Regions from separate parts of the Homo sapiens genome. Here regions 2 and 3 are each linked to region 1. Evidence: fine-mapped expression QTL. A gene starts in region 1. Each other region holds a variant in brackets. All regions are shown on one strand. Distances are between the middles of the regions. Region 1 holds the start of C3orf62 (chromosome 3 open reading frame 62). Region 2 overlaps IP6K1 (inositol hexakisphosphate kinase 1). Region 3 overlaps BSN (bassoon presynaptic cytomatrix protein).

The links.
Region 2: its variant is fine-mapped to the expression of C3orf62 in whole blood (TOPMed, PIP above 0.99).
Region 3: its variant is fine-mapped to the expression of C3orf62 in whole blood (INTERVAL, PIP above 0.99).

What each region holds. Positions count from the first base shown.
Region 1 is chr3:49,275,651-49,278,410 of GRCh38, forward strand. C3orf62 (chromosome 3 open reading frame 62) reads right to left here and starts at 1,582. Exons shown (of 3, transcript NM_198562.3): 1 at 777-1,582. The coding sequence starts at 1,222. It overlaps USP4 (ubiquitin specific peptidase 4), which reads right to left. Exons shown (of 22, transcript NM_003363.4): 22 at 1,494-2,760. The coding sequence ends at 2,643. RefSeq lists an enhancer at 1,196-1,265 and a silencer at 1,406-1,605.
Region 2 is chr3:49,782,492-49,785,251 of GRCh38, forward strand. All of the region lies in intron 1 of IP6K1 (inositol hexakisphosphate kinase 1), which reads right to left. Among named protein-coding and RNA genes, the nearest start is that of IP6K1, 2.7 kb to the right of the region's middle. The variant G/A (reference allele first, on the strand shown) is at 1,438.
Region 3 is chr3:49,587,642-49,590,401 of GRCh38, forward strand. The region is part of intron 1 of BSN (bassoon presynaptic cytomatrix protein); the gene reads left to right. Among named protein-coding and RNA genes, the nearest start is that of BSN, 35 kb to the left of the region's middle. The variant A/ATTTTTTTT (reference allele first, on the strand shown) is at 1,441.

The DNA of each region.
Region 1 (2,760 bases):
CTCCCGAGTAGCTGGGACTACAGGCGCCCGCCACCACGCCCGGCTAATTTTTTGTATTTTTAGTAGAGACAGAGTTTCACCGTGTTAGCCAGGATGGTCTCGATCTCCTGACCTCGTGATCTGCCCGCCTCGGCCTCCCAAAGTGCTGGGATTACAAGTGTGAGCCACCGCGCCCGGCCTGAAGTTTCATCTCATACATTCATCCCTTCTCCAAGTCAAGGTGCCTGGGACCAGGCAATTTCAAGTTACTCGGGAGAAGAAAAAGTCTAGAAGAGACCTGGTGATGGTCCAAAAAGATCTGGGGTAAGAGCGGGGAGCAGAGGCAAAGATGAAGCCAGGAAGTAGGGCCCAGCCTTCAATTAAGCCTCTCCCTAATGTGGGCAAAGGAGGGTATCAAAGGCCCCAGTGTCCAGATTCAAACACAGGAGTTAAGATGGAATTAAGACTTTTGTTTCTGCAACTTAAAAAATAAGGTTATTTTTAAAACCCGGTTATTTTACATCCACTACCCCTTTGGGTACTGCAAAGTGGTTTCCATGACTGGTTTTTGACATCAACGATTGACAACTAGCCCCTCAACTGGAACATATACACAAAATATAACTGTTTCCTAGGCCAGATTCTGAAGAATGTCTGTCAACTCCCCAAATGCAGTCACAGAGCTGCCAAGAGGAGGCAAGAGCACTGTCATGAACTAAATCTAGGATCTTCAACAACTTTTTCAGAAACAAGAATCCCCTTAATTGTAGCTGTTAAACCATCAAAATTAGAATCACCTTAAATTTTCTTTTCTCCAGTTTTCCCCCTCTCCTGCAGTTCTCCAAGACTCTCTTTCAGGTGCCAAAATGGAGGAATGCATCAATACATTTTCCTTGCTGGTTAGAGGTTTTCTCTCGGGGCACAGAGCATGTGGTTTTGCATTTACCGGGGCATGGTTTGTTGCAAAGGCAGGGTTCTCATTCTCAGGAGCACATGGGACAGCAGCAAAAGGAGCAGCAGAAGAGCAGGCTGCCAGAGGATGTCTTCTGCAGAGGAGCCTGTGCACGGGCAGCGAGAAGGAGAGCGGCGCGGCGCTCAGTTCCAGCCTCTGCTGGCCTGTGCACTCCTGGGAATAACTAACTCCTTCAAAGGCCCGGTCAATGGCTGCAGTCAGTTCCTTTCTGCATCTTCTTAGTTTTTCAGACATTTCTCCTAAAAGCGACCATGTCTTTATGTAATGCATTGGAAATGCACAGGACAACACAATAATGTTACAAATGAGGCTGCAAACTACCCCTGAATGGCCACGATTTCCTGGAGCTTGGCCCTGGCTATAGCAGGACCCACAACCCTCGGGCTTTCCTCCTGGAGTAGGCGGTTCTCGGCTCTCGCGGAGGAACCCGCCATCTGCCAGAAGCCCCAAAGACGCCCCGCCCCACTTCCCACAGCTTCCTGGCCCGCCCCGCCGCTGCCTCCCGCCCCACCGCGGCTCCCAGGCCGCTGGCCCTACCGGCACCCCCCCTTTGGCGAGTCGGCAGCCACGTCCTTGTCCTCACCCGCAGCGCAGTGACGCCGACCCATCCAACGGTCATCGCATGCGCGTGCCCCGCGCAGGCCCCAAACCCCCACGGATTAGGTTGAAGGTCAGACAAAAAATCCCGGACCCATACGTCCGGTTCCTTAAGGCCTTGCCCACACGCAGCGGCTGGCCCCGCGGTGGGAGTGGGGACGGGGCTTTCGAATGGGGGCCCCGGGAAGAGTCTTGGCAGGGATGAGGAAAGAACCCGTTCTAGAAAGCATCTGGGTAACACCAAAATGTATTACTACCCTAAATCGCCATGAACTGGAGCCCTTTCCCGGCTAACTCCCACAAAGATTTCTGTTCTCAAGCCAACATGGAAACAACTAGACGGGACACAGCACCGGGCAGTTTTATGTACTGACTTCCTTTAAGCGTTATCTAATAAAAAGTGTGTTATCTAATAAAAGTTCCACACAGTATTTAACCGTCTTAATTCATCTAGGGTAGCAGGGGATATAACAGAACTGCTGGGTTCCACAGGAGGTTGAGGGGCCAGGATCCCCAACACTAGATATCTTCCTTAGCGGGGAGAAAGCTGGAAATTACAAGATGACTCAACGGAGAAATGGGCTTCAGTGGGTAACTTTCAGAAAATTATAAACCCATATCAGTGCACATAGCGAGGGAAAGGGGAGTTTACTTGAGGTTTGGGTTACTGTGAGCAGACTACTTGGGGTGACTAGTATTGGCATCAGAACCAGAAATCCAGGCGCTCAGGGCAGCCCTGCAGGTGGGGTGGGTCTCCAGGCTGCTCCATACTCAGCGCCTGTGTTCCTCTCCATTCTTCGGGATCCATCAGACATACTCCATTGAGTACCCCCATCCCACCCCCTTTTCAGCTTCACAGGTTTCACAGAAATTTCTCACCACCTGTTTAAAAATAAAAATAATTCAGCCTCTTGACATAGCTTCTTCTAGGTAAACGGTCTTCTTTTTTTTTTTTTGTTTCCTTCTGCTCATAAAAGAAGGGTATTTCCTTGTCTGGTTTTTAGACAGAACACTAGCAGTCTGCAGAGTGTCAAAGATGTTCTCCTGGGGGATTACACTGGCGCTACAGGGTGGCAGGATCGTGGAGTCAGCATTAGTTGGTGTCCATGCTGCAAGCCTCATCATCCCCAAAGCCCTGCTGAGAGCTGCTTGGTCGTGTCCCTCCATCAGAGGAACCAGAACTGCTAAGTGAAGGTGTCTTATAAAATTCA
Region 2 (2,760 bases), 510 kb after region 1:
CAGTCTGACACATTTGCACTTAAAAATGCCCATCACAAGCCAGGCACAGTGGCTCATGCCTGCACTTTAGGAACCCGAGGCAGGAGGATCATTTGCACCCACGAGTTTGAGACTAGCCTGAGCAACATAGTGAGACCCCCATCTCTACAAAAAAATTAAGACAAAGAAAATTAGCCAGGCATGGTGGCGCATGTGTGTAGTCCTAGCTACTTTGGAAGCTGAGGCAAGAAGATCACTTGAGCCCAGGAGTTGGAGGCTGCAGTGAGCTACAATTGTGTCACTACACTCCAGCCTAGGAGGTTTTTAAGAGACTGTCTCTTAAAAAAGGCCAGGCGTGGCCAGGTGTGGTGGCTCACACCTGTAATCCCAGCACTTTGGGAGGCCAAGGTGGGTGGATCACTTGAGGTCAGGAGTTTGAGACCAGCCTGGCCAACATGGCAAAACCCCGGCTCTACTAAAAAAAAAAAAAAAAAAAAAAATTAGCCAGGCGTGCTGGCGCACTCCTGTAGTCCCAGCTACTCGGGAGGCTGAGGCAGGAGTATCACTTGAACCCAGGAGGCGGAAGTTGCAGTGAGACAAGATCATGCCACTGCATTCCAGCCTGGGCGACAGAGTGAGACTCTGTCTCAAAAAAAAAAAAAGGCCAGGCATGGTGGCTCATGCCTGTAATCCTAGCATTTTGGGAGGCCAAGACAGGAGGATCACTTGAGACTAGGAGTTCAAGCCCAGTCTGGGCAACTGAGACCCCATCTCTACATAAGTAATTTTTAAAAATGCAAATGACAGCCAGTGTGGTGTCTCACCCCTGTAATCCCAGGCCAAGGCTGAGGCAGGTGGATCACCTGTCAGGAGTGACCAGCCTGGCCAACATGGTGAAACCCTGTCTCAGAAAAAAAAAAAAAGCAGGGGCTTGGGACAATTTTGAAAAGCTAATATTTTTGCTGGGTGCAGTAGCTCTCGCCTGTAATCCCAGCACTTTGGGAGGCCGAGGTAGACGGATCATGAGGTCAGGAGATCGAGACCATCCTGGCTAACACGGTGAAACCCCGTCTCTCCTAAAAATACAAAAAAATTGGCCGGGCATGGTGGCAGGTGCCTATAGTCCCAGCTATTTGGGAAGCTGAGGCAGGAGAATGGCGTGAACCCAGGAGGTGGAGCTTGCAGTAAGCCAAGACCATGCCACTGCACTCCAGCCAGCGCAACCGAGCGAGATTCCGTCTCAAAAAAAAAAAAAAAGAAAGAAAGAAAAGCTAATATTTTAATATCCCCCTCCTTTCAAGAACTGCCCAAGGAACTGGTCTTACCAAGATTATAATGAACTAAAGATTCAAAAAATGGCCCTGAAGGACAATGAAATAAATAACTAAAGACTACTCAACTTCTCCCTTGCCTCACAAGTGCAGTATAAACTCAGTCGAACAGCAACAAGCTGCCAGC[G/A]TCCTCTGGGTTCAGCACCTGCTTTCCTAAAGGATCTCCTGACCAAGGAGCTGGTTTCTTTCAAAATTATTATTTTATTTATTATTTATTTATTTATTTATTTTTGGAGACTGAGTCTCACTCTGTCACCCAGGCTGGAGTGCAGTGGCGCGATCTCAGCTCACTGCAACCTCCGCTTTCCGGGTTCAGGTGATTCTCCTGCCTCAGCCTCCATGCACCACCACGCCCAGCTAATTTTTGTATTTTTAGTAGACATGGGATTTTGCCATTTTGGATAGGCTAATCTCTTAACTACTGACCTCAGGTGATCCGCCCGCCTCAGCCTCCCAAAGTGCTGGGATTACAGACATGAGCTACCGCACCTGGCCTCTTTCAAAATTATACATTCAGAGGTGACAAGATCCTGATAGAAGTGCACAAAGTAGGCTAGGCGCGTGACCAGGCACAGTGGCTCACGCCTGTAATCCCAGCACTTTGGGAGGCCAAGGCAGGCGGATCAGGAGGTCAGGAGTTCGAGATCAGCCTGAACAACATGGTGAAACCAGGTCTCTACTAAAAATACAGAAATTAGCCGGGCATGGTGGCACGCACCTGTAATCCCAGCTACTTGGGAGGCTGGGGCAGGAGACTTGCTTGAACCCAGGAGGCAGAGGTTGCAGTCAGCTGAGATTGTGCCATTGCACTCCAGCCTGGGTGAGAGAACGAGACTTCGTCTCAGAAAAAAAAAAAAAAAGTAGGCTTGGCGCGGTGGCTCATGCCTGTAATCCCAACAATTTGGGAGGCGGAGGCGGGTTGATCATGAGGTCAGGAGTTCGAGACCAGTCTGGCCAACATAGTGAAACCCCGTCTCTACTAAAAATACAAAAATTAGCCAGGTGTGGTGGCACGTGCCTGTAGTCCCAGCTACTCGGGAGGCTGAGGCAGGAAAATTGCTTGAACCAGGGAGTCAGAGGTTGCAGTGAGCCGAGATGGCACCACTGTACTCCAGCCTGGCAACGGAGCAAGACTCCATCTCAAAAAAACAAAACAAAACAAAACAAAACAAAAAGTGCACAAAGTATTGTCGCTTGACTTCTTAGTCATCTCATGCAGGCATATTCTATGACCACATACAAGAAGACTGTACAAAGAACCAAAGAGGCCACAGGTCAAGAGAAATGTGTTTTGGAGCAATGAGAACTCTTCCTAGACCTGCACACTCTACTGAGGATCTCCAACTTGCCCAAATTCACAGGAAAGGGGCTTGAAGGTGTTTTCACTGAGCAAGATAATTTTAGTACTGTTAAAAGTTAATTTGCGCCGGGCATAGTGGCTCACACTTGT
Region 3 (2,760 bases), 310 kb after region 1:
CTTTAGATGTTTCCTATTGGTTGCTTGATTTGCTCCCTGTGTAGATGAAGTGGTAGCCTGTGACCAGTATGATTGGTTGTGGAAGGCGATCAGTCAGAGGCTGAAGTGAAGTTACAAAGTTACACCCTATGCAAATGTCTGATTGGTTGCGGGAGAGGACCAATCAGGGGTACTTTCTGTTTCTCATCTGCCATGCAAAAGGAGTAACTTCTGTCATTTTGTTACTTGGGCAGGGAAAGTTGGGGTTTTTCTTTTCTTTTCTTTTCTTTTCTTTTCTTTTCTTTTCTTTTTTTTTTTGAGACAAGAGTCTCGCTCTGTCGCCTGGGCTGGAGTGCAGTGGCGCAATCTCGGCTAACTGCAACCTTCGCCTCCTGGGCTCAAGCGATTCTTCTGCCTCAGCCTCCCAAGTAGCTGGGATTATAGGCGCCTGCTACCACGCCCGGCTAATTTTTGTATTTTTAGTAGAGATGGGGTTTCACCATGTTGGCCAGGCTGGTCTCAAACTCCTGACCTTAGGTAATCTGCCTGCCTCAGCTTCCCAAAGTGCTGGAATTACAGGTGTGAGCCACTGCACCCGGCCGGGATTTTCCTTTTGATTCAGTTCTAGGAAGTCAGTGCAAATTGACCTTAGGTTCCCTTCCTCCAGACCCTATTCTCCTGCCTCACTATGTTGAATAGCAGTGATGACAGTGGGCATCCTTGTCATGTTCCAGATCTTAGAGGAAAGGCTTTCGATTTTTCCCCGTTCAGTATGACACTAGCTGTAGGTCTGTCGTATATGGCTTTCATTATTTTGAGGTATGTTCCTTCTATCCCCAGTTTTTTGAGGGTTTTTTTTAAAATCATGAAGGGATGTTGAATTTTTTCAAATGCTTTTTCAGCATCAATTGAAATGAATCTTTCTTTTCTTGAATATAGGTATTTGCAGCTAGAAATTTCTCTGAGTACTGCTATCACTACATCCAATGTTTTGATATGCAGTGTTTTCATTTTAATTCCTCTCAAAGTACTTTAAAATTTCTTTTGTGATTTCTTCTCTGACCCATGAGTTATTTAGGAATGTGTTGTTCAATTTACACTTATTTGTGAATTCTGCAAATTTATTTCTGTTATTGATTTCTAATTTAATTATATTGTGTTCAGAAAACATTCATTGTATGATTTCAAGTCTTTTCAATTTTTTGAGGTTTGTTTTGTGGCCTAGTTTATGGCCTAATCTGGAGGGTGTTCCGTGTACATTTGAGAAGAGTGCGCATTCTGCTGTTGTTGGGTGGAGTGTTTTTTTTTTTTTGAGACAGAGTCTCGCTCTGTCGCCCAGGCTGGAGTGCAGTGGCGCGATCTCCACGCACTGCAAGCTCCGCCTCCCGCGTTTACGCCATTCTCCTGCCTCAGCCTCCCGAGTAGCTGGGACTACAGGCGCCTGCCACCACGCCTGGCTAA[A/ATTTTTTTT]TTTTTTTTTTTTTTGTATTTTTTAGTAGAGACGGGGTTTCAGGATGGTCTCGATCTCCTGACCTTGTGATCCGCCCGCCTCGGCCTCCCAAAGTGCTGGGATTACAGGCGTGAGCCACCGCGCCCGGCCGGGTGGAGTGTTTTTTAAATACCCGTTAGTTCTAATTAGTTTATAGTGTTGCTCAAGTTTTTTATTTTCTTGTTGATCTTCTGCCTAGTTGTTCTATCCATTATTATAAAGTATTGAAGTATCCAATTACTGTTGTTGAATTGTCTATTTCTCCCTTCAATTCCGTCAGTTTTGCATCATGAATTTTGGGGCTCTGTTCTTAGGTCTATGTATGTGTATATGTTTACAAATGTTATATCTTTCTAATGGATTGACCTCTTTATCAATCTTCAATCTTCATTTTCTTTTTCTTTCTTTCTTTCTTTTTTTTTTTGAGATGGAGTCTCACTCTGTCGCCCAGGCTGGAGTGCAGTTGCGCAATCTCAGCTCACAGCAACCTCCGCCTTCCAGGTTCAAGCGATTCTCCTGCCTCAGCCTCCCAAGTAGCTGTGACTACAGGCGCATGCCACCACGCCCGGCTCATTTTTTGTATTTTAGTAGAGACGGTGTTTCACCATGTTACCCAGGGTGGTCTCAATCTCCTGAGCTCAGGCGATCCAACAGCCTTTGGCCTCCTGAAGTGCTGGGATTACAGGCATGAGCCACCATGCCTGGCCAATCTTCATTTTATTTTTCCTTCTTTCTTTTTCTTTGTTTTTTTTTTTTGAGATGGAGTCTCACTCTGTCGCCAGGCTGGAGTGCAGTGGCGCAATCTCAGCTCACTGCAACCTCCGCCTCCCAGGTTCAAGTGATTCTCCTGCCTCAGCCTCCTGAGGAGATGGGACTACAGTCGTGTGCCACCACGCCCAGCTAATTTTTGTATTTTTAGTAGAGACGGGGTTTCACCATGTTGGCCAGGATGGTCTTGATCTCTTAACCTCGTGATCTGCCCGCCTCGGCCTCCTAAAGTGCTGGGATTACAGGTGTGAACCACCACGCCCCGCCAAATCTTCATTTTCAATAACATTTGTTTTGTGTTGTAAAGTCTGTTTGGTCTGGTATTAGTATAGCCATTACAGCTGTCTGTGGTTGCTGTTTGCATGATAATCTTTGCCCATTAAAAAAAATTTCAACCTATTTGTTTCTTTGAATCTAAAATATGTCCTTTAGATAGCCTTTTGTTGGATTCTTTAAAAAAAACAAATCTGATAATCTCTGCCTTTAGATTATTTAATCCATTTTCATTTAATTAACATTATTAATATGGTTGG